Linked DNA regions of Homo sapiens: regions 1, 2 and 4 are each linked to region 3. Evidence: fine-mapped expression QTL. A gene starts in region 3. Each other region holds a variant in brackets. All regions are shown on one strand. Distances are from middle to middle.

Region 1 (6,342 bases), 87 kb after region 3:
AGTTCCCTTGTGCCTATCTCTTTTTTTTAGTGGATTTTGTATGAATGTTTAACATGAAATCTACCCTCAACAAATTTTTAAGTGCACAATACATCAACCTGACTTGTGAATAGCATAGGAATTGGGTTTGTGACATAGATTTGTGACTCAATCTGAAAATGTCTTTTCTTTTACTAGGTAAAAGACTTACCTACATTCATTGGTATGGTCAATTATAGTTCTATAGTCTTACATGTGTAACATTTAAAAAGTCTCTCCTTTGTGGTCTCTCTCTCTCTTTTTTGTTCTAGTGGCTGCATATTACACCATAATCATCATCTTCCTCCTCCTCCTCCTCCTCATCGTGGTCTTCTTCTTCCTCTTCTTTCTTCTCCTTCTCTTCTTCCTCTTCCTCCTCTTCCTTCTTCCTTCCTTCTTCTTCTTTCTTTCTTTTTTTTTTTTTTTTTGAGACAGGGTCTTGCTCTGTTGCCCAGGCTGCAGTGCAGTGGCACAATCTTGGCTCACTGCGGCCTTGACCTCGAGGGCTCGAGCGATCCTCACACCTCAGCCTTCTGAGTAGCTAGGACCACAGATGCATGCCACCATATCCAGCCTATTCTCTTCTTTCTTTAGAATTATCTATAATTTGGCTGTGTGCGGTGGCTCACACCTGTAATCCCAGCACTTTGGGAGGCTGAGCCGGGCAGATCATGAGGTCAGGAGACGGAGACCATCCTGGCCAACATGGTGAAGCCCCATCTCTACTAAAAATACAAAAATTAGGTGGGCATGGTGGCACGCACTCGTAATCCCAGCTACTTGGGAGGCCGAGGCAGGAGAATCGCTTAAAACCAGGAGGCGGAGGTTGCAGTGAGCCGAGATTGCACCATTGCATTCCAGCCTGGTGACAGAGTGAGACTCCATCTCAAAAAAAAAAAAAAAAAAAATTATATCTATAATTTTCTTAATGTAATTAGCATTAAAATTAACTTATATTCTTTTCTTCCCTCTTCATCCCTCCCCTCAAATATACAATTTTAGTTGATAATACTGTCTTTCTTAGTGTTTACTTTTGTATTGTTAAGTATGCTATACTTCTAAAGCTTGATTTTTCAACTTGATTTATCTCTTGTTTGCCAGGTATAATTGATGAAGCAACTAGCGAGCTTATTCTTTCCTCCACCTTTTCTTTCCCCATCTTTGCTTTTTAAAAAAGTTTTATGTCGTCAAATCTTATATCACTTTCATTCTATTCTGTCACCTTTATTTTCCCCATTGTTTTCATCTTATAGCTTACAGGTAGATATATTTGATGCCCATGAGAAGTCCTTTTGTTGAGGTTTCCCTGGTCATTCATGATTGGTTAGTTTTTCCCCTAGTTTTCTTAAGAAGAATTCACATCAACAACATTCTCTGAATTCTTGAATATTCCAAGTAATTAGATAGTATTAACTGTTGCAAGAAATGAGATCAAAAGCTCTATTGCTAACAGGAGTGTCATTTGACACAACCACTGTAAAACAGGTTTGCAACAACTTGAAAACTTAAACAGCCATTATCCTATAACCTGTAAATTTCACTCCTACCAAGATAAACTCTTGCACAGGCATAAAAGGAGTCACTTACAAGACTCTCTATTACAGCACTGTTTTTATTGTGTTTTGTTTTTTAACTTTTTTTTTTTTTTTGAGACGGAGTCTCGCTCTTTCGCCCAGGCTGGAGTGCAGTGGCACTATCTCGGCTCACTGCAAGCTCCGCCTCCTGGGTTCACACCATTCTCCTGCCTCAGCCTCCCGAGTAGCTGGGGCTACAGGCGCCCGCCATCGCGCCCAGCTAATTTTTTGTATTTTTAGTAGAGACGGGGTTTCACCATGTTAGCCAGGATGGTCTCGATCTCCTGACCTTGTGATCCACCGACCTCGGCCTCCCAAAGTGCTGGGATTACAGGCGTGAGCCACCGTGCCCGGCCTGTTTTTTAACTTTTATTTTAAATTTAGGGGTATATGTGCAGGTTTGTTGCATAGGTAAACTTGTGTCATGTGGGTTTGTTGCACCGATTGTTTCATCACCCAGGTATTAAGCCTAGTACCCATTAGTTATTTTTCCCAATCCTCTCCCTCCTCCTAACCTCCACTCTCAACTAGGTCCCAGTGTGTGTTGTTCCCCTCTCATGTGTCCATGAGTTCTCATCATTTAGCTTTCACTTTTAAGTGAGAACATGTGGTGTTTGGTTTTCTGTTCCTGTGTTAGTTTGCTAAGGATAATGGCCTCCAGCTACATCCATGTCCCTGCAAAGAGCATGAACTTGTTCCTTTTTATGGCTGCATAGTATTCCATGGTGTGTATGTACTACATTTTCTTTATCCAATCCATCATTGATAGGCAGTTAAGTTGATTCCATGTCTTTACTATTGTGAATAGTGCTACAGTGAACATACACATCCATGTGTCTTTATAATAGAATGGTTTATATTCCCTGGGGTATATAACCAGTAATGGAATTGCTGGGTCTATCCCATTGGTATTTCTGTCTTTAGGCCTTTGAAGAATCACCACACCATCTTCCGCAATGGTTGAAGTAATTTACATGCCCACTAACAATGTATAAATCTTCCTTTTTCTCCACAACCTCACCAACATCTTTTTTGACTTTTGAATAATGGCCATTCTGACTGGTGTGAGATAGTATCTTATTGTGGTTTTGATTTGCGTTTCTCTAATGATCAGTGATGTTGAGATTTTTTTCATATGCTTGTTTCATATGCTTGTTTGTCACATTTATAT[C/T]TTCTATTAAGCAGTGTCTGTTCATGTCCTTTGCCAACTTTTTAATGAGATTGTTTTCTTTTTTCTTGTAAATTTAAGTTCCTTATAGATGCTAGATATTAGACCTTTTTCAGATGCATAGTTTGCAAAGATTTGTTCCCATCCTGTAGGTTGTCTGTTTACTCTGTTGATAGTTTCTTTTGCTGTGCAGAAGCTCTGTAGTTTAATTAGATCTCATTTGTCAATTTTTGTTTTTGTTGAAATTGCTTTTGGCATTAATTCGCTTAGGATTATGGTCTCCAGCTCTGTTCATGTTGCTGCAAAGGATGTGATTTCATTCTTTTTATGGCTGTGTAATATTCTATGGTGTATATGTACTACATTTTCTTTGTTCAATCCACTGTTGGTGGGCACCTAGTTTGATTCCATGTCTTTCCTATTATGAATACTGCTGTGATGAACATGTGAGTGCCTTGTTTTCTTTTGAATATATATACCCAGTAATAGGATTGCTGAATCAAATGGCAGTTCTGTTTTAAGTTCTTTGAGAAATCTCCAAACAGCTTTCCACAGTGGTTGAACTAATTTACATTCCCACCAACAGTGTATACGCATTCCCTTTTCTCCATGGTCTTGCCAGTATCTGTTGTTTTTGAACATTTTCATAATAGCCATTCTGACTGGCGTGAGATGTTATCTCACTGTGGTTTTCATTTGCACTTCACAGATAATTAGTGATGTGCAACATTTTTTGTATATGTGTTAGCTGCTTGTATGTCTGTTTTGAGAAGTGTCTGTTCATGTCTTTTGCCCAATTGTTAACAGGGTTGTTTGTTTTTTTGCTTGTTGGGTTGTTTAAGTTCCTTATAGATTCTGGATATTGGATCTTTGTCAGATTTTTTTTCTGACAAATATTTGTGACTATTTTCTCCCATTCTGTAGGTTGTTTATTGTGTTGACAGTTTCTTTTTCTTTTTCTTTTGTTTTGTTTTGTGTGTGTGTGTGTGTTTAATATTTTAAGTTCTGGGGTACATGTGCAGAACATGCAGTTTTGTTACATATGTGTAAACGTGTCATGGTGGTTTGCTGCAGGCATCAACCCATCACCTACATTAGGTATTTATCATAATGCTATCCCTCCCCTAGCTCCCTACCCCCTGAGAGTCCCTGGTGGGTGATGTTCCCTGCCCTGTGTCCATGTGTTCTCCTTGTTCAACTCCCACTTATGAGTGAGAACATGTAGTGTTTGGTTTTCTGTTCTTGTGATAGTTTGTTGAGAATGATGGTTTCCAGCTTCATCATGTCCCTGCAAAGGACATGAACTCATCTTTTTTTATGGCTGCATAATATTCCAAGGTGTATGTGTGCCACATTTTCTCAATCCAGTCTATCATTGATGGACATTTGGGTTGGTTCCAAGTCTTTGCTATTGTGAATAGTGCCACAATAAACATACGTGTGCGTGTGTCTTTATAGTAGAATGATTTATAATCCTTTGGGTATATACCCAGTAATCGGATTGCTGAGTCAAATGGTATTTCTAGTTCTAGATCCTTAAGAATTCCCTCACTGAATTCCACAATGGTTGAACTAATTTACACTCCCACCAACAGTATAAAAGCATTCCTATTTCTCCACATCCTCTCCAGCAACTGTTGTTTCCTGACTTTTTAATGATTGCCATTCTAACTGGTGTTAGATGGCATCTCATTGTAGTTTTGATTTGCATTTCTCTAATGACCAGTGATGATGAGCATTTTTTCGTATGTTTGTTGGCTGCATAAATGTCTTCTTTTGAGAAGTGTCTGTTCATATCCTTTGCCCACTTTTTAATGGGGTTGTTTGTTTTTTTTCTTGTAAATGTGTTTAAGTTCTTTGTAGATTCTGGATATTAGCCCTTTCTCATATGGATAGATTGCAAAAATTTTCTACCATTTTGTAGGTTGCCTGTTCACTCTAATGATAGTTTCTTTTGCTGTGCAGAAGCTCTTTAGTTTAATTAGATCCCATTTGTCAATTTTGGATTTTGTTGCCATTGCTTTTGGTGTTTTAGATATGAAGTCCTTGCCCATGCCTATGTCCTGAATGGTATTGCCCAGGTTTTCTTCTAGGGTTTTTGTGGTTTTAGGTCTTATGTTTAAGTCTTTAATCCATCTTGAGTTGATTTTTGTTTAAGGTGTAAGGAAGGGGTCCAGTTTCAGTTTTCTGCATATGGCTAGCCAGTTTTCCCAGCACCATTTATTAAATAGGGAATCTTTTTCCCATTGCTTATTTGTATCAGATTTGTCAAAGATCAGATGGTTGTAAATGTGTGGTGTTATTTCTGAGGCCTCTGTTCTGTTCCATTGGTCTATATATCTGTTTTGGTACCAGTATCATGCTGTTTTGGTTACTGTAGCCTTGTAGTATATTTTGAAGTCAGGTAGTGTGATGCCTCCAGCTTTGTTCTTTTTGCTTAGGATTGTCTTGGCTATGCGGGCTCTTTTTTGGTTCCATATGATGTTTAAAGTAGCTTTTTCAAATTTTGTGAAGGAAGTCAATGGTAGCTTGATGGGGATAGCATTGAATCTATAAATTACTTTTGGCAGTATGGCCATTTTGACAATACTGATTCTTGCTATCCATGAGTGTGAAATGTTTTTCCATTTGTTTGTGTCCTCTCTTATTTTGTTGAGCAGTGGTTTGTAGTTCTCCTTGAAGAGGTTCTTCACATCCCTTGTAAGTTGTATTCCTATGTATCTTATTCTCTTAGTGGCAAGTGTGAATGGGAGTTCACTCATGATTTGGCTATTCGTCTGTTATTGGTGTATAGGAATGCTTGTGATTTTTGCACATTGATTTTGTATCCTGAGACTTTGCTGAAGTTGTTTATCAGCTTAATGAGATTTTGGGCTGAGATAATGGGGTTTTCTAAATATACAATCATGTCTTCTGCAAACAGAGACAACTTGACCTCCTCTCTTCCCGTCTGAATATGCTTTCTTTCTTTCTCTTGCTGATTGCCCCGACCAGAACTTCCAATACTATGTTGAATAGGAGTGGTGAGAGAGGGCATCCTTGTTTTGTGCCAGTTTTCAAAGGGAATGCTTCCAGTTTTTGCCCATTCAGTATGCTATTGGCTATGGGTTTGTCATAAATAGCTCTTATTATTTTGAGATACATCTATTGATACCTAGTTTATTGACAGTTTTTAGCATGAAGGGCTGTTGAATTTTGTCGAAGGCCTTTTCTGCATCTATTGAGATAATCATGTGGTTTTTGTCACTGGTTCTGTTTATGTGATGGATTACATTTATTGATTTGCATATGTTGATTTGCATCTCAGGTATGAAGCCAACCTGATTGTGGTGGATAAGCTTTTTGATGTGCTGCTGGATTCAGTTTGCCAGTATTTTATTGAGGATTTTTGCATCAATGTTCATCAGGGACACTGGCCTGAAATTTTCCTTTTTTGTTGTGTCTGCCAGGTTTTGGCATCAGGATGATGCTGGCCTCATAAAATGAGTTAGGGAGGATTCCCTCTTTTTCTATTGTTTGGAATAATTTCAGAAGGAATGGTACCACCTCCTTTTTATACCTCTGGTAAAATTTACCTGTGAA
Region 2 (6,246 bases), 34 kb after region 3:
ATATCTTCGAGCTAGAGTAAGTTTTTCATATTTCTGTTATGTATCTTAAATCTTCATAAGATAATTATTCAAATAAATGTTTTTTGGATAAATTGACCTTTTGCCACATATTGAGATGAAATAGAGTCAATTAGAATGTCTGCCTATGGTCACATCAGCTGAATAAAGGACAGACTATTAAAGAAAAAGATTTATAGGCTGGGCGCAGTGGCTCATGCCTGTAATCCCAGCACTTTGGGAGGCTGAGGTGGGCGGATCACTTGAGATCGGGAGTTTGAGACCAGCCTGGCCAACATGGTGAAACCCTGTCTCTACAAAAATACAAAAAATTAGCTGGGCTTCATGGCAGGCGCCTGTTATCCCAGCTACTAGGGAGGCTGAGCCAGGAGAATTGCTTGAACCCGGGAGGCGGAGGTTGCGGTGAGCTGAGATCGTGCCACTGCACTCCAGCCTGGACAACAGTGAGACCCTGTCTCAAAAAAAAAGGAAAATATTTATGGATTTTATTTCCTGCTGGTTTTATTTCATTTGTCACCCTAGCCTCACTTGCTGCATATGTAAAACATGAAATGAGAAAGGTGATTTTATAGCAGTGATACAATTTAAATTCACAAATGGATTTATTTTGTGTATAAAATGACATGAAATTCCAGATTGGCTAAGAACTTGAATTTGATTTTCAGTATATTAGGTAGATTTGCCTTAGTAAAATGGAGAGATTAATAATCCATGTGAAATTGTGCTCTATGTGTATATTCTTTTAGAATCAATATATTTTATGGAGAAATAGAAACAGGACTTTTATTCAAGAGCCTAGCATTTCTCTTTATAAATATATCAACACAAAAATGTCTTGCTAAAAACAACATATATTAACAATGCCTTGTACACTAGAAAGCATTTTATAAAATAATAGTTACTAGCGCAATATCTGGGCAAATGTGGACTAGGGACGCTGAGGGCACATGAGCATTTTTACAGTGGGGCTCCTACCTTTGAGAAGTTATATGAATTGTGATTCTCTTGCTAAAAGTCTTTAGTAACTAGAATTAATTTCTGTTGATTGTGTTTGATGCACACAGAGAGTAAAATATAATAATGATTCTGTGGTCTAATAGTTAAAATGTGATCATCTATACCAGGTTTAAAATTTTTGGTACCTATGAGAGTGAAAAAAAGGAAGCTTACTAAACCAGTTAGTGTAAGGGAAAATAATGTTTTACCTAAGTGTGACAAATGAATTTCAGATACTGGTTTGGAGTTGCTTTTACATATAACAAATTAATTATGAGTTATAATATTTATTAAAAGCGTAAATAGATTTTTGTCAAAGACATATTTGGCTTCTTTTTCTCTTTCCTATGAAAAATGTTATTGCATATGGGTAATTTAGAAGTAATGAAAATGCCTTACTTGTAAAAAGGGGGATGTAGAAGTTAGAAACTAAGGCTACTGTGTTACCCCAAAAGCAAACATTTCTTCATAGAATTGATATTTTACTAAGAAGTTCTTATATCTGTGATATTATTACAGAATGCTATAATCCTAATAGCTCCCTACTTACCTTTTTTAATAATACAGTCTTGCTGGGTACTTCATGCATTTAGTTCTTTGAAGTTCCATAATGAGCTCAATCTAAGAAATGCCGTTGAATTAGCGAAGAAGAGCCTGATTGAAGATAAAGAGATGCCTGTCAAAGTTGAAGCTGCCCTTGCTCTTCAGTCTTTAATTTCTAACCAGATACAAGGTAAAGCCAAAATACCTTTTAGACATCTTCTCAAATAATTTCATTTACTTTCTTCCCTAATGAAGATGCATCTCCATGTCTGAGGGTTCAGGGTTTGGAATTCTGAGGTTTTGCCCTCTCAGAATTTTGTAGGAATTTATTCTTGTCCTTTTTAGGTGTTCCTATTGACTGTAGTTTTCAGAATTTTAGGTTAGGAAACATGTTAATCATTGTGGGGCCCTAGGATAGGCTGGGCATAAAGAGACCTGGGCCCAGTTTTGATTTTGCTCCTAACTTGCCATGGAAACCTGGGCAAGGTGTGTGATCTGTCAAGGCTCAGGTTTCCACATATTTAAGTTTAGGGGAGTTGGACTGAATGACTTCATGATTCCTTTCACCTCTGGGATTCTGATTCCCCTAGTTTTGAAAGTAGCAAGTAGTATTTCTAGTGAGTGATAACAGACGTCTCATTTGTTCAGTGTTCTGATCAAAGTTCAAATAAACCTTTGAAAGTAAGTTCAGCTTTATGAAGAACGTGAACGTAGTTTGCCTCTATTCAGCAATGTTTCAGTGGGAGGATTGGATATTGTACACATGGCAAGGGAGGGTGGTAGAGATGGCCTGGGGCAGGGAAGGGGCCCCATCAGTATTCGGGATAGTCTTCACGTACATGATTTTTTATAACTTGTCATGAGAACTGATTCATGTTTTCCAAGTCATTCTGATGACCAAGTGTATGTATAATTAGAATTTCTCAGTGGGGGCTATTAGTATTTTGGGATAGTTTCTGCACAGGACAGTTCTCTCCTGTGCAGGACTTCTTATCCTTATATTACTCTTGGGAAACTGATATATTGGTGAACATTATTTAGGTACAGCTTTGTAACTTACCACAGAGCAAGTGTGTATCTAGAACCTGATTTAGGTATTACCCTGGGTCACTTGACCTTGTGACCAAGTTAATTCCTTTTATCATCTGGGCATGGTAATTTTTATTACTTTTGTTTGTTTTATTGAATTAGCTAAGGAATATATGAAGCCACATGTGAGGCCTATTATGCAGGAACTGTTGCACATTGTTAGAGAGACAGAAAATGATGATGTTACTAATGTCATCCAGAAGATGATATGTGAATACAGTCAAGAGGTAGCCTCAATTGCTGTTGATATGACCCAACACTTGGTAAGACCGGGCAGTTTTATGTTAATTTGGTTTAGAAACCTTGAGTAATCTAAATAAACTCCAAAATATGGAGTTCAGTTTTATTTGTACAGTCATGTGCTGC[T/A]TAACAACATTTCAGTCAATGACAGATTGCATATACGATGGTGCACTCCTAAGATTATAATACCGTATTTTTACTGTACCTTTTGTATGTTTAGATACAAATAATTCCATTGTGTCATGATTGCCTAAGTATTCACTACATTAGCAAACTGTATAGGTTTGTGGCCTTGGAGCAATAGGCTATGCCATCTAGATTTGCCTAAGTACATTCAATGATGTTCAAGCAAGGATGAAATTGCCTAACGACACATTTCTCAAAATATATCCATGTTAAGCGATGCATGACTGTAACTGAAATATTGATAAAAAAATTATTCTGATATTACTATAGTTCATTAGACTTTAATCACATTTAGGATAATTTCTTTCATCTAGAATATTCTGAAATTTTATAATATGTGCTTTCTAAAGTTTTAATTTCTGGGCTTTGAATCAGGAAGCTCATTTCCTTCAGTTTGGGGCAATTTATTGTTTTACTTTTTTGATAAATTTCTCCTTACTATTTTTTTTTCTGTTTGTATTTCCTGATATGGAGAATCACATCTGGACTGTGTCTCTTAATTTTTTTAAAAACTTTTCCTCCTGTTTTCCATGTCTGTTTTTTTTTTTTGTTTGTTTCATTTTCTAAGTGATTCCTCGACTTCTCAATCTTCTATTGCATTTTTCTTTTTACTATTACTTGATTTCACTTGTCCTAGATTGTGATTTTACTTGCTTAGTGACAACCAGAAGTTAAATATTAGCTCTCTGGATATAATAGTTAATGTAAATAGCTATATTTAAAACATGACAAGTTCTGTTATTTTAAGAAGAGAGATGATTCAGTCAGCAAAGTGCAGACTTCAAAGTTTGAGCAATGCAGACTTCAGATGTGTGACACTGCCATTTTGCTAACTTTTGTAAAGCGGGGACGTAACAGTACTACTAATTGCGGAATACTTTAATGTTATTTTCATAGGCTGAGATATTTGGCAAAGTTCTTCAAAGTGATGAATATGAAGAAGTTGAAGACAAAACAGTAATGGCTATGGGAATTTTACATACCATTGATACTATCTTAACAGTTGTAGAAGATCATAAAGAGGTGAGATTTCTTTGTGGTTTATGATATAATAGTAGCATTTAACTGAAATTTATGTGATCAGTGGCCATGAATTTTGAAGTCTCCACTTTTAAATTGCTACTTAGTTATGTTGCTAGGCTTTAAAAATTGCCCTCACATTTTATGGAAACATATTAAAATGACTGAGTAACATTATAATATTACATCATAATATTTGTAATATTATAATGTAAATATTATAAAGTATATAGTATATCCCTTTATATTAACTTGAGTTCAGTTAATCATATCTGCTATGTGCCAGGCTAGGTTCTTGGGGAATACCAAATTGAATAAGAAATGAGCCCAGCTTTCTGGGAACCAACAATCTAGAATTCTTGGTAGAGAGTGACAGACAGCAGTTCAATCACAGTGGCAAGTGTTAGGTAATGGAACAGAATTCTGATATAACAAGTACTGTAAAAATGGAAAGGAATAAATGAAAGAGCTGAAAAGCATATTTACTCAACTGAATTCCAAAGTGTTATTGGGATAAGACTTTATACAGCTATTTATCTAGTGCTTTCACATCCATCAGCTGATATGATCTTACTGGTGCCACCATGACATAGCTAGCACAGGTAATGGTAGTCTGTTTTGCAGAAGCAGAAAACAAAGTTCAGGTGGATTTAAGAAACTTGCTCATGGTCCCAGAGCTAGTAAGTTGTACATTTGGGTTTGTAGTCACATCATTTTGATAATGTATCAGTTTATCCCCATTTAAAACCTACAGCTGCTTCCCAAGTATCCCATGGCCTCTCCTTAACTCAAATTAGATTTTTGTTCATTGCTTCTGTGAGTGCAAGTTGACTTGTTTGGCACTGATGGCAATTATTGTTTTACAAGGTGAGCACTTAGGAAGCAGGTGCTAGTACTACTTTTATTTGTTTATTTAATTTTTTGAGACAGTCTCACTCTGTCACCTAGGCTGGCGTGCAGTGGCATGATCTTGGTTCACTGCAACCTCCACCTTCCGGGTTCAAGCAATTCTCCTGCCTCAGCCTCCCGAGGAGCTGGGACTACAGGTGTGTACCATCACACCCAGCTAATTTTTATATTTTCAGTAGAGATGGGGTTTCACCACGTTGGCCAGGCTGGTCTTGAACTCCTGACCTCAGGTGATCCACCCGCTTCAGCCTCCCAAAGTGCTGGGATTAAAGGCATGAGCCGCCATGCCTGGCTGCTACTACTACTTTAAATAGCATTGTTAAACCATGTAGCTGTTGGGTTTTTTTTTTGATTTTGTGGGTTTTTTTTTTTTTTGTTTTGAGACAGAATCTCACTCAGTCACCCAGGCTGGAGTGCAGTGGCTCAGTTTCTGCTCACTGCAAGCTCCGTCTCCTGGATTCACGCCATTCTCCTGCCTCAGCCTCCCGAGTAGCTGGAACTACAGGTGCCCGCCACCATGCCCAGCTAATTTTTTTGAATTTTTTTTATTAGAGACGGGGTTTCACCTTGTTAGCCAGGAGGGTCTCGATCTCCTGACCTCGTGATCCGCCCACCTCGGCCTCCCAAAGTGCTGGGATTACAGGTGTGAGCCACCGTGCCCAGCCGTAGCTGTTGGTTTATCCTGTGTTTATGACGTGCCAATGGAAGATGACTTGGTTTTTTTTTTTTTGTTTATTTGTTTGAGACAAGTCTTGCTCAGAGACAAGTCTTGCTCTGTTGCCCAGGCCGGAGTGCAGTGACACAATCTCAGCTCACTTCAACCTTGGCCTCCCGGTTCAAGTGATTGTGCTGCCTCAGCCTCCCGAGTAGCTGCCTGCCACCACGCCAGGCTAATTTTTGTATTATTAGTGGAGAAGGGGTTTCACCATGTTGGTCTGGCAGTCCTGGAACTGCTGACCTGAAGTGATATGCCCGCCTTGGCTTCTGAAAGTGCTGGGATTATAGGCATGAGCCACTATGCCCGGCTGACTTGGTTCTTAAAAATGGCTTGATAAGGCCCGGCGCGGTGGCTCATGCCTGTAATCCCAGCACTTTGGGAGGCTGAGGCGGGTGGATCACGAGGTCAGGAGATCGAGACCATCCTGGCTAACACAGTGAAACCCCATCTCTACTAAAAATACAAAAAATTAGCCTGGCGTGGTGGCGGGCGCCTGTAGTCCCAGCTACTTGGGAGGCTGAGGCAGG
Region 3 (6,342 bases):
GATTGAGTAATCAAAGGGTTAGGAATGTATTCTGTAAGAGAAAACAAGAAAAGAGATAATTTAAAAATAGTATGAAATATGATACCGGATATTAGAGGCTGGGTGTGGTGGCTCACACCTGTAATCCTAATTTGGGAGGCTGAGGCTGCCAGATTGCTTGTGCCTAGCAGTTTGAGACCAGCCTGAGCAATGTGGTAAAACCCTGTCTCTACTAAAAATAAAGCTGGGCGTGGTGGCATGTGCCTGTAGTCCCGGCTACTTGGGAGGCTGAAGTGGGAGAATTACCTGAGCCCAGGAGGTCGAGGCTGCAGTGAGCAGTGATCATGCCTCTGCACTACAACCTAGGCAATGGAAGTGAGACGCCCTCCCCCAATCTCTCAATCTCTCTCTCTCTCTATACATACACACACACACACACACACACACACACACACACACGCGCGCGCGCGCGCGCGCGAGAGAGAGAAAATTTAAGTTGAGAACTAAAAATGTCTCTTGCAGTTGGTATACCCCCTAAAGAGGTCGGTGTTCATCTTTGCTTGGCAGTTTTAGTGGGAAATGAGGGGGAGAAGCCTGGGGATAGGTGGTTGAAGCATGAATGGGAAGTAAGCTGACACAGTGAATGAAGACCATTCTTTGGAATGAAGTGGAAAAGAATGAGCAATAATTAGCATTACTGAAGATTATTTTTTTGCTGGGGGAAATGTTTTTAGGCTGAGGTTGAATCAGTGGAGGAAAAGAGGCTGAAAAAGTACGAAAAAAACTTACACATTGTCAACAATGAGCACATTATAATGACTAAAATTTATTTTAATGAAAAAATGTATTTAAGAGAGGAGAGATTTATGGAACAGGGTCCTGGAGGAGATGGGAGAGAATGGGGTTCAGACTGCAGAGGAGATGAAGAGGGATAAGCGGAGATGAATTTGTTGTTGAGTTGAGCCTGAGGGTTTTGCTCATCTTTGCAGGGTTTGGTGAGAAGGCGTAGGGAGCTTGAGAAGAGTCCTGAGAGTTGAAACGCCACTGAGGGAATGGAAGATGTTGCTGATTAAAGGCAAGGAATAGGAATAGGATGGTTGCATCTGATTAAAGAATACATCTGATATCAGTTTGCACAGTGGGTCAAGGCTAGAGTTAAGAAGCTGAATTGGGGGTTTAATAGCAGAGAATGATGTGTAGTGAGTAATGGATAGACTAAGAACTGAAGTAGTGATTGAATTGGAAAACAAGCTTAGAATTTTTGAGGAAGAGAGAAATGGAAGAATTAGTTCTAATTATAAAAGAGGATATTGGAGTTAAGATTTTCAGAGATAAAAAATTTTTTAGACATTCATGATGTCCAAGAGAGTGGTTTAGTGAAATAGTGTTCATAAGACTCTGGAGTGCTAAGTTTATATTTTATTTTGAAATTGATGAGAAATCAAGGAAGAGACATAGTAATATTAACTTTTCAGAAACTTTCTTCTGATGATAGTGTGAATAATGGATTAAAGAGGGGCAATACTGGAAGCAATTAGACATGTTAAATTCACTGTGAAGCACTTTTGCATCCAACTGAGGGGGAAGCTTTCAAGCCACCAAGTTTTCAGCCACATGTTTTCTACTCTCTCAATTGAACTCAGTTAATTGACCCAATCTATCTTAATTATCTGCTCCTGAAAAGATCACAGCCCCTCAGCTGTGTTTTGCCCACATCATCATCTTTATTAAATGTAATTAGAACCCTCTCTTCTGGGTTAACCTCAGGAAGAACCAGCTCCTTGATATTTTCATGCCATTGAAATTGTGGCGCCAGATATGGCCACAGTGGATAGAAACAGTATAACTTTTCTGCTTACCTTTCACTACATTTTTGAGAAGGTCTGAAAATTTTTCATAAAACTCTCAGGGATGTAGTTTTCAGTTTCTGTGACCTTTGTCTTTCTGAAATGGGAGAGGTTCCCTTGTCCCCCTCACAGGGCGTGCATTGGGGGTGTGGCTCGCTTCTTCAGTGCCCCGCTGCTCAGACCTCTAGAGAAGCATACAGACCGGCAGGCTGTGGGGCTCCGACCCCTTGACAGAGTCTGGGGGTGAATGTTTACAGCTCCTGAAGCCCCAGTGGGTGTGTGTTACAGGATGCTCTTTCAGTTTGCCTTTAGGGGGCTTGTGTTAACCAGCTCAATTAGACCCTCTACCTTGTCGCACAGACAGCGAGCTTTCTGTATCCTGGGTTCTTGCCTTGGTGTACCAGAAGAATTGGATCACACGTGGGCTTGGAGAATGAGTGCAAAGTTTTATTGAGTGGAAGTAGCCCTCAGCAGATGAGGGACCCAGAAGGGAAATGGTTTTCCTCTGGAGTTAGGCCGCTTGGCGGCCCGGGCTCTTTTCCGACTGCCCAGGCCAACCTCCGCATCGTTCTGCCCGTGAATGGCCTGCGGATGTGCCAGCGAGCTCCTCTTCTTCCACCCTTATGCTCCTCTGGACGTCTGGCTGCCTGTGTACCTGCCTGCTAGGGTCTGGGGTTTTCATAGGCACAGTATGGGGGAGTGGCAGGCCAGGGTGGTCTTGGGAAATGCAACATTTGGGCTGGAAGGCAGGAGTGTCAGTCCTCACCTAGGTCGGTGGGCGTGGAGCCCTAGCAAGGGACCACACACTCCTCTACCCAGCACTTCACTTCGCCCATCCCTATCATTTAAAGGGACCACGCTCTTCCCTTCCCAGCACTCCCCTATCATTTCTACACTGTAAATTTTTTTTGTTTATATTTGTCTCATCTATCAGGTTGTGAATTCCTTCACATTAACTTGCATGGAATTCATCTTGTTATAATGTGGTACCTAAAAATCCTAGTACTCTGGTTCAAAAATATATGTTTAACAAATGTTCAGTGAAAGCGAATGAATGAATGAACGATGACTCCCACACACGGAGGAACCCTGTCCTCCTGTAAGGTACATGATTTGAAGGTCCCAACAAGTCTATCTTGGAACAGGCCCAGTTGCGATGCCCATACAGTTCTCGGACTAACAAAAAGTGTCACACCATCCAGATATGCTTAATTTGGAAGCAGCTGTAAGCAGACTCCCGGCCAGCTCAAGTTTCCTCACCTGGGAAGAGGCGGGAGGCTGTTTACCGTACGGAAGCATAGCGGCCGCCTGCCTGAGTTCGGGAGCGCGGGTTCCTTTCCGGGAAAGAAGCCTAGGCCGTTTTCCGTACAGCAGCATGGCGGCCGCCGACGGGAGGCGGTCATAGCATCACGCCCGGGGGAAGAGGCCGCCGTAAAGGAAGCTCTGCTTCCTCTTCTTCCTTCTCCCGCCTCCCACCGGCTGTCGTAAAACGGTGAATGGAGAGCGAGTTGTGGGGGGGAAAAAGGGAGGACAGGGGGCGCGGAGTCAGAGTGGCGCAGCAAGTGGCCGCAGGTGGCGACGGTGGCGGGGGGTGGGGTGTGAGGTAATCCAGGGGTCGCGGAAGAGGAGGCTGAGAGGGTCAAAAGAAAACTAAAGCTGCAGTCCGGCCTACTGTTCCGGGGGCCGCGGAGCCCCCACCCGGGGAGATGGACCTCAACCGGATCATCCAGGCGCTGAAGGGCACCATCGACCCGAAGTTGCGGATTGCAGCCGAGAACGAGCTCAACCAGGTGAGGAGAGGGTCTTCGGCGACCCTCTTCCGCCGAAGGGGCGCCCCTGCCGGCTGGCCGGGCTCCCTCTCCCCGGCGCCCCTCGTCCTCACCCCCACCGGGCTGGGGCTGACGCCTCACGGCTGGTCCCGCTCTCCGACCCCGCTGCCCCCCGGTCCAGTGGAGCAGGGCTCCCAGGATCTTTGCCGAACAGCTCGCGCACCTGTTGGCCACCTTTGCACCTTTTCGTGTCGTCTCCCTTCTCCAGGGCAGTTTGTTCTGCCTACTTGGTCCGCAAGAAGCAGTTTTTGCAACCTGTGCTAGTGTTTTCAGGGTGTGATTTATTTTCCTTAAGTGCGCGGACTTGGGGAGCAGGTGGGAATTTTACTTACAGTTCAAATCTGAGTTCAGCTTTTTTCCAAACCCAGCCCTTTTTAGGTGTTGCTGTGGAGCACGCTGCCCACCGCCTCCTCCTGTCGGGTTGGCAGGACTGTTTTGACACCGATTGGCCGAGTTTTGCGGAGCGCTGGGCAGTGCTGTTGGGAGAGTGCTCTGGGAAGAATAGGCAGTTTTCATGGTGATACTGCTTTATCTAAGACACATCAAAGTAAGATGTGTTGGAGAAATTTCTTATGAATGCTAAAATGTGTAAGACTTCTTTCTTTTCTCCGTCTCCTGTTCTTCCTAATTAGCCTTGACGTCTTTCCAGCGTTACCCCCACACTTCAAAATTTTAATGATCCCAAACTCCAGCTTATTTCTTCTTCCCTACCGGTACTTAAGAATCACAGACCTCTTACTAAAAAGTAGGGATTAAGAGCTACCACTGGGATGGAGCAACAGCTGTTTTAGGTTGTGATGACTTGTAAAATGTAAATATTCCAAAATCAGCTGTTCTCAAAGCGTTGCCCAGGACCTGGAGCTTCAGCATCACCTGAGAACTTACAAATTATGCAAATTACGGGGCTTCAGTCCAGACTTAACGAATCAGAAACTGTGGGGGTGGGACCAGTTGTATTTTAACTAGCTCCCCCAGGTGATTCTGTGCCTCCCGAAGTGTGACTGAAGTGTGACTGTCCTAAGTAAATGTTTCTGTTGGAATTGACTTTAAAAAGCTGCGTGTTGGGAATCTTTGAAAGGGATTATTTTAATAGGAAACCTAGGTGGAGTTTGGAGTAGGTATAAATGCAGGATTCCCCAGAGATAAAAGGGAGAGTGAAGACACTGCCAATGGAGAGGAGGTTGGGTTGAACTAATGCCCAAAGATAATGCACTGGTGCCTGAAAAAGAAATGGACTGTCACTTAGAATAGGGGGAAGTTAAAGTCAGTACCTGTCCCAGGCTTTGCAGAGTAAAAGTACTGTATGTTGGCTGGCTGGAAGAATAGTAATCCAGGGGTTAGTTAGGAAGAACAAAGCAGGAGCTGAATTTGCAGTCTACTAATATGAACAGGGGAGTTGGCCTGTTTATGACCCCCTTCTCACAATGAGGCCAGGTGTTCCTTTGATATCAGGTTACACTTCCCTGCCCTTCACCTAACCTTCATTTCTTTCTGATTCATCAGTATATAAGTACAGTTGATGTTATAGAAGTGGAAAAAGTATATGAGAAAGCCTGCAGAACTAGGAGACATTTAAGACCCAATCCTATTTTTTTTCCCATGGTATTTCAGACAAAAGCAGGCACGTTCAGGGTGGTATGGCCGTAGACTCTTGATGGTAGTTCAATCCAAATCCATTCCATCATCACTCTGCCCTGCCCCATAGTGTCCCACCTCATCACAGACCGTGGTTTCCCCAGCAATTTCTAAAGGTAGCTTATTGCTATACCACTCATTTAGCATTTATAATTTATATAAAGCATAGTGAAATGCTTTAAGGTTTTTTGAATTGGCTGTAAATAGAACAAAATATAATGTCACCTAACAGTGTAGTAAAACATGCTTATGATGATGGGTTTTGCCTGCTTGTCCTTTGCCACCACTGTAACATCCGACTTTGTTGGATAAATGAGTGGGTAAATCACCATAAGTGGTTATGGTCCACCTCTTCGACTTTAGTCTAGGTCTCCCCTCAGCAAGTATGTTCTGCATAGGGAATGGGAGCAGCTTCTGCGGTATACTGATGGATCTGTCAATTGCCGTTTAGAAAAATAAGCAGCTTCTGCACCACAGCCTATATTCCAATGGATAAATTCTCATTTGGAGCTATATATTTTTTTCAGGCCAGCATTTTTCTGTTACTAGTGAGTAGTTTTCTGACTGCTATTTGTGATATTGTTTCTGTGGGAAAATGTATTTGTAGTTTTATCTCAGGATATTGAGCGAACCCTATACATCTTCCTCATTTTCTATAGACCAGAAGTCCCATTAGAGGCAGCATAGAGGAATAGGAATGGGTAGGTACCTTGCTTAAGTAATTCATCCAGAAAGGTGTCCTCTTTTAATAAATTATCCTTCACATGGCCTCGGTAGGGAAATAAGTTTTTACTTTGATTGCCAAGCTTTTGAATCTCTGCTTTCCATGCATGTGTACATGCAATTTTCATTACCCTTTATTAAGATAATTTGTTTATGTAAATAGCACAGAAATATTTATTAAGTTACTATGTTGCAGATATTGGTATAAGAGTTTGTTTCCATGGAGCTGGGGATACAGGCAAGTAACTAATATAATTTCAGGTCATAAGTGCTGTGGAGAGTAAAGCCCGAGCAAGAGTGTTGGGATGTATAGCCATTCTCTGAAGAAT
Region 4 (6,342 bases), 66 kb after region 3:
ATGGGAAACGTAACAGCATAAACGTGGAGATGGAAATATGGAGGATGTGGCCTAGTGTAGTTCCAGACATGGGTGTGTCATAATCACCAAGGAGGCTTTTAGGTCTTGAGTAGGATCTCAGGAGATGTATTTTTAAAGATGCTTCTCAAGTGACAAGCAACTTTAAACCAGCATGTAGGGGCCACTGCTTAAAGACTGTGAAGGAACGCAGTTGGGCTGGGCTATAGTGGCCTTGAATTCTGGACTGAGGTGGTCCATCCCATTGCCCATTGGAATAGCGTTGAAAGTTGTGTTCTGAGGCGGTGACCTTTTAGATGTGGTAATTCACTTCAGGGGAGTTACCCGGTGATGGATGATGTGCAGAAAAAACTGGAAAGGACTAGATGTGGGAGCCAAGTGTTAGAGGTTCACTTTATTAATTTAGATGTATAGAGACCTGGAATGGGGAGGGTGACATTTGATGGAAAGCAGCATACAGATGAAAGACATTAAGAAAGAAGCAGAGCTTTGGGTGTGGAGAGGGCATGCTCAGGGATGTTAAGGATGCACAGTAGTGGACTGGGAGACTAATAGAACTGGTGAGATAAATGGAGAGATAGAAGGTTTGGGAGGAAATTGTTAAATTTGGTTTTAGTTGTGTTGAGTTTGAGATGAGCTATTCAAATGGAACAGTCCAGGAGGCTTAGGGGAAGGTTTTTCCTAGAGGTACAGATTTGAATCCTTGGGGTGGTAGCAATACTAAAGCTGCAGGTAGTATGAAAATTCCAGAGGAAAATGGTAACAAGTGAGTACTGGTGTTCTGGATTTTAGAGAACATCCATAGAAGACAGCAAAGGAGACAGAGAACTAGGCAGACTAGAGATTTGCAATGTCCTAACCTTCCTTTGATTTCCCACATAGCTGGGTACTAAGTGGGTACTCAGAAATAATCCTTTGTTGGCGTAAGTTTCATTACCTTGTGTGTGTTGTAGTACTGTACTCTTTGTCTCTTACTGTCTGGGATAATTTCTTTGTAATTTGATCATGTTACTACTTGTTCTGTAAATTAATAGTCGCTGTACCCTCCTGTCTTTTCCTCCCAAAATGCAACAGCTGTGCAGAGTCGAGATGCAGCCTGGTACCAGCTGCTGATGGCACCACTCAGCGAGGATCAGAGGACAGCACTGCAGGAGGTGTACACACTGGCAGAGCACCGACGGACGGTGGCAGGTCAGCCAGAGTAACCTCCAGAGTGGAGTGCATGTGTCAGAGTGCCAACAGACAGCCTTATTTGATGAGCCAGGTGGCACCTAAACACTGTTTTTGAAATTGTTAGAGACTTACCCTTTAAGATAATAAGGAATTGTCATTATTGTATGATTGTTTTAATCACTCATGATGTCTTAGCTTTGCAAAAACCTGCACATTAATATGTATTTCCTAGTGGTGTTCTCATTCACATTCTTATCCTATGTTGGAGGCAAAGGTACAAAGTAAGGGTTGGGATAAGTCTTGCCGAGGGAGACTTAATCAGTTGGATCACTCCCCTAAACATTTCAACCGTGGGCCAAAGGGACTTGACGAATTCTTGCAAGGAGCTTGTATTCCTGGAAATGGAATGCTCTCTATTTCTCATTGTTGGGCTTTATTTGACATTGTTTCTTGTTGTTGATTTTCAGTTTTTAAGCTGGAGGAATTACTCTGTGTTGATTATTGTAGTTACTTGTAGATTGTCATTGGAAAAGATTTTGTAGTTACAAAAAAATTTTAGTAGGAAACATGGCAAACTAGACATCTAGAGTTTAGAATGCTGGCTCTTCTGCATGGACTTAGATTTTCAGTTCTGTGCAGATTCTCAGTCAGCCTTCCTGATATGAGAAGTCTGGGCCCCCTTTCAGCAGTAGAGACAGTGAAGTAGAATCCACCTCTGAGACGTGTTTTCTTTTCACTCGTTTTTTGCAGATTTTCCGATGGTAGTGAACATACCACCTTATTGACATAGGTCTGTTATTCTTAGTTATTCTTTGGCAGGATAACTAATACTACCAGTCACATTCTTTCACAGTTCTAAGCATATAAAGAATCTGGCTCCTTTGAGTCATCTCCAACTTTGTCACCTTAAGCATTCTTTTTTTTTCTTCTCCCCTTTTCTTTTGAAAAATGCTAGAGGCAAAGAAGAAGATTGAACAACAGGGAGGCTTCACCTTTGAAAACAAAGGAGTCCTCTCCGCATTTAATTTTGGGACTGTGCCCAGCAACAACTGAAGGAAAGAACATCAGCTGACCAAATGTCATCGCTGCATTTTATTTCACAAGAGGAGTGTGAGGGTCAAGGGGATGAAATGAGGGGCTGCTTTTAGGGCCCTCCTGCTGTGCCAGTTACCATCTGGCATTAGGCAGCACTTTTATCTACTCTTTCCCCTTTGACCTTTGTCACCCTGAAATATATATTTTAAACAGCTACTGTAAGTATGAAATGAAAGAAAAACAATCATTGGACGGAAAAGGACAACCCATATGTTCCAAAGGCTGAATGCCCAAGGTTGTTTTAGAGGATTGGATAGACTTGCACGTCTCAGGTTTTTGCCATGCAGAATCAATGGATTTATGCGGATAACAGTGCCTTCTGTTGTACATGAATTATCAGAAAAAAATTTTTGGAGTGCATTGCAATTTTTTTTAAAGCATAAAACATATTTCTAGATACAACATAAACCTTGGTTATATGTCAACTATTCTGCATTTTACTCTGTGAATTTATTGTTAGGCAGTTACTGCAAGTCACTCTGGTTTCAAAATCTTCACGGCTCCCTCTGCTCACCCTGCTGCTGGGGGGCTTTTTTCAGGGGTTGTATTATAAAATATGCACTGGCTGTGGTTTTTCATAAGATGTTTTGTGGCTTTTTAAAGAAGTGTCTTACTCCCTCTTCTCTCATTTTTTTCTGCCTTGAAAAGGGGTGGTATTTCTTTTGGGGTCAACAAATACACATATCAGTTTCACTCCTAACCTTGTAAGTTCAGGACTCATTTTCTTGGCAGCAAGTGGCAGGGGCTCTTTAGTCACTGGAGTTAACAGTAAGTCTGAGTATATTCTGAATAATGTAATTATGCAATTAATTGATAATCATACCTAAAGCACATTGAACTTCTAAGAGACAGGTGCTACGTAAGCACACTGTCTTTCTGGATGGGGACTTGTATTTTAAATAACTTATCATTCCAGCTATGTTGGACTAGGGTCCAAAGCATTTTATAATATTTTTTTTTAATCTAGGAAAAAGACCCAAACAAATCTAACTTCTTGCTTTCTCACCTATTTGAATTTTCTCCTACCTAATTTGTTTGTGTCTTTATTATAGCTCAGTTTGACTTCTCAAACTTTTCAAGGGTTGGGGCAGCTGCACTTTTAGGTTGCCTATAGGAAATATTGCATATGGAGATTACAGTGTTTTTCTGACCTAGTTCAAGACCAGAACATGGGTCATAGGGTTTTTATTCAGCAAAATGAAAACGTATCTTCAGAACTTAACATATTACTGGATGTGATACAGATTTTGCTTTCTGTGGAATTGAAAATTCACAAAAATTCACAGCTTAAATTTCCCATCAGTGACTGGAGGAATTTTTTTCAGGTGCTTCCTATATTAC[C/T]ATCCCTCATGCATATTAACTCTTTAGAATTTTAGGTTAAGTGATGTCTATAGAAGTAGCCTGGAAAACCATGAGTTTTGGAGTTCAGTGACCCCCTGCTTTCCTCTGCTCCTCCCTTCCCAAGGCATTGAAGCTGAATGTGCCAACTGGCAGTTAGAAGCGAAAGATGGCATTGGGAGAAATTTTAGAGAGCTTTCAAACTCTTTATTCTCATGTTCCACATGGTCTAATTTTAACATAAATAATATGCCTTCACACTGGATTGTAAAAGGCATGTGATTTTTGAGATTTTATTTTGTGATGTATTGTCTTCTGCAGTATTAAAGGGAAAGAGATATTAATGTGCATTACCCTATCTTGTTTTTGAAGCCAGGGTAGTTGTATGATTTTGTTACCAGCAGTGCTAACCTGAATGTGACCTGGTTACCTTGGAAATGCAGGAACTTATATGAATGTACTATAAAATAAAATGCGGACTGATTCCCAGGATTCTGAACTTTTGTGTGTGAAATGTTTTCTGAAATGTGGAGGTGCTTTAAGCAGTTGATAATAACCCATCAGTATGTTTTCCTGACACCTGGTGACCTGAAGCAAGGTGGACTGTAGGTCTGGGAGGGTGACCAGGGCTTATCAGGAACAGCTAATACATGGGGAGAAGTAGGAAGTGAAAGCCCATCTCATGAACCAGGAGGTCCGCACAGAAGAGTGTTGGAGCTCTGGAAAGGCACAGGGCGTTCAACCACAGCAGGACCTCGAAGGAAAGGAAGATGTCACTAAAATGGTGCAATTTTCTGATGGGTCTACTATCAAATTATTACTGGTCAAAACTGGACTGGTAATACGGTAATGGATATGTTCTTAGAAATGCTTCATGGGCATTTTGTTATTGTGTGAGCATCCTAGAGTCTGCTTACACAAACCTAGATGGTGTAGCTTACTACGCACCTAGGCTACGTGGGATAGCCTATTGCTCCTTGACTACAAACCTGTACAGCATGTTACTGTACTATACTGAATACTATAGGCAATTGTAACACAATGGTAAGTAATTATGTATCTAAACACAAAAGGTACACTAGAAATGTGGTATAAAAGTTAAAAATGCATGAATGGAGCTTGCAGGACTGAAAGCTGCTTTGAGCGAGTGAGTGGTGAGTGAACATGAATGTTTAGGACATTGCTGCAGCTGCACACGACTGTAGACTTTATAAAACTGTATACTTAGGCTACACTAAATTTATAAAACAATTTTCTTCAATAATCTTAGCTTACTGTAACTTGTGAACTTTTAACTTTTTAGCTCTTTTGTAATAACACTTAGCTTAAATCACATTGTACAGCTGTACAAAAACATTTTCCTTTTAAATATCTTTATTCTATAAGCTTTTTTCTATTTTTAAAATTTGTTTACTTTTTAAACTTTATTAGCGACTAAGACACACATTAGCATAGGCCTACATAGAGTCAGGATCACCAATATCCCTGTCTTCCACCTCCACATCTTGTCCCCCTGGAAGGTCTTAAGGGGCAGTAACATGTATGGAGCTGTCATCTCCTATGTAGCAATGCCTCTTTCTGGAACACCTACTGAAGGACCTACCTGAGGCTGTTTCACAGTTAACTTTTTTAATAAGTAGGAGTATGCACTAAAATAACAAGTATAGTAAGTACTAGGTGATAGGAATTCTCCAGCTCCATTCTCTTATGTGCATACTGTCATTTATGTAGTCCATTATTGACTGAAAGGTCATGGGGCACATACTTGTACTTGCATGATGGTAAGACCCATTACATTGTTAATCAGTGAAGATTCCTAAGAAAACAGTTATTTATTTTTTTTATTATACTTTAAGTTTTAGGGTACATGTGCACATTGTGCAGGTTAGTTACATATGTATACATGTGCCATGCTGGTGCGCTGCACTCACTAACTCGTCATCTAGCATTAGGTATATCTCCCAATGCTATCCCTCCCCCCTCCCCCCACCCCACCACAGTCCAGAGTGTGATATTCCCCTTCCTGTGTCCATGTGATCTCATTGTTCAATTCCCAGCTATGAGTGAGAATATGCGGTGTTTGGTTTTTTGTTCTTGCGATAGGAAAACAGTTATTTTAAATTGTCATTAAGTAATATAATGAATTATAGTACAGTTTTCTGTTTAGCAAGGGAGACTGAATAATCCAGGCATAAAAGGGAAACTTGGCCATGTATTAGGACCATGTGCGTGCAAGTGTGTGTATGCATGAATGTTTCGTGCATTAAAAATTATTCCAGATGAGCCTTAAATAGCAGTCTTTTCTGTTCCACCTTACTCTCTCCGTTGAGACTGCTGTACAAATGCTGCCTGGGTGGATTGGGAAATTTCTAGGCAGTCTGCTAGCAAGAAAGGCTGCAAAATCAATAAATAAAGAGATGGCTTATACTCTGTAGATAGACTATGTTTGAGGAAGAAGCACAAAGGGCAACTATGGCTGTCTCACTTTGTTGCCCAGGCTGGAATGCAATGGTGCGATCACAATTCACTGCAGCTTGATTTCATGGGGTCAAGTGAGTGATTCTACATTAGCTTCCTGAGTAGCTGGGAGTACAGGCAAGCACCACCATGCTTGGCTATTTTTTAAATTTTTTGTAGAGACAGGGACTCAATATGTTGCCCAGGCTTGTCTCGAACTCCTGGCCTTGAACTATCTTTCCACCCTGGCCTCACAAAGAG

Evidence for each region. PIP is the estimated chance that this variant, and not a neighbour inherited with it, causes the effect.
Region 1: its variant is fine-mapped to the expression of IPO8 in whole blood (TOPMed, PIP 0.94).
Region 2: its variant is fine-mapped to the expression of IPO8 in whole blood (INTERVAL, PIP above 0.99). The same link has a PIP of 0.9 or more in blood mononuclear cells.
Region 4: its variant is fine-mapped to the expression of IPO8 in whole blood (INTERVAL, PIP above 0.99).

What each region holds. Positions count from the first base shown.
Region 1 is chr12:30,605,971-30,612,312 of GRCh38, reverse strand. No RefSeq gene overlaps it. Among named protein-coding and RNA genes, the nearest start is that of IPO8, 87 kb to the left of the region's middle. The variant C/T (reference allele first, on the strand shown) is at 2,764.
Region 2 is chr12:30,658,990-30,665,235 of GRCh38, reverse strand. It overlaps IPO8 (importin 8), which reads left to right. Exons shown (of 25, transcript NM_006390.4): 13 at 1-16; 14 at 1,582-1,747; 15 at 2,749-2,909; 16 at 3,970-4,095. Among named protein-coding and RNA genes, the nearest start is that of IPO8, 34 kb to the left of the region's middle. The variant T/A (reference allele first, on the strand shown) is at 3,013.
Region 3 is chr12:30,692,838-30,699,179 of GRCh38, reverse strand. IPO8 (importin 8) reads left to right here and starts at 3,311. Exons shown (of 25, transcript NM_006390.4): 1 at 3,311-3,616. The coding sequence starts at 3,533. RefSeq lists an enhancer at 2,922-3,421 and a silencer at 3,512-3,561.
Region 4 is chr12:30,626,762-30,633,103 of GRCh38, reverse strand. IPO8 (importin 8) reads left to right here. Exons shown (of 25, transcript NM_006390.4): 24 at 1,093-1,209; 25 at 2,147-4,116. The coding sequence ends at 2,244. Among named protein-coding and RNA genes, the nearest start is that of IPO8, 66 kb to the left of the region's middle. The variant C/T (reference allele first, on the strand shown) is at 3,628.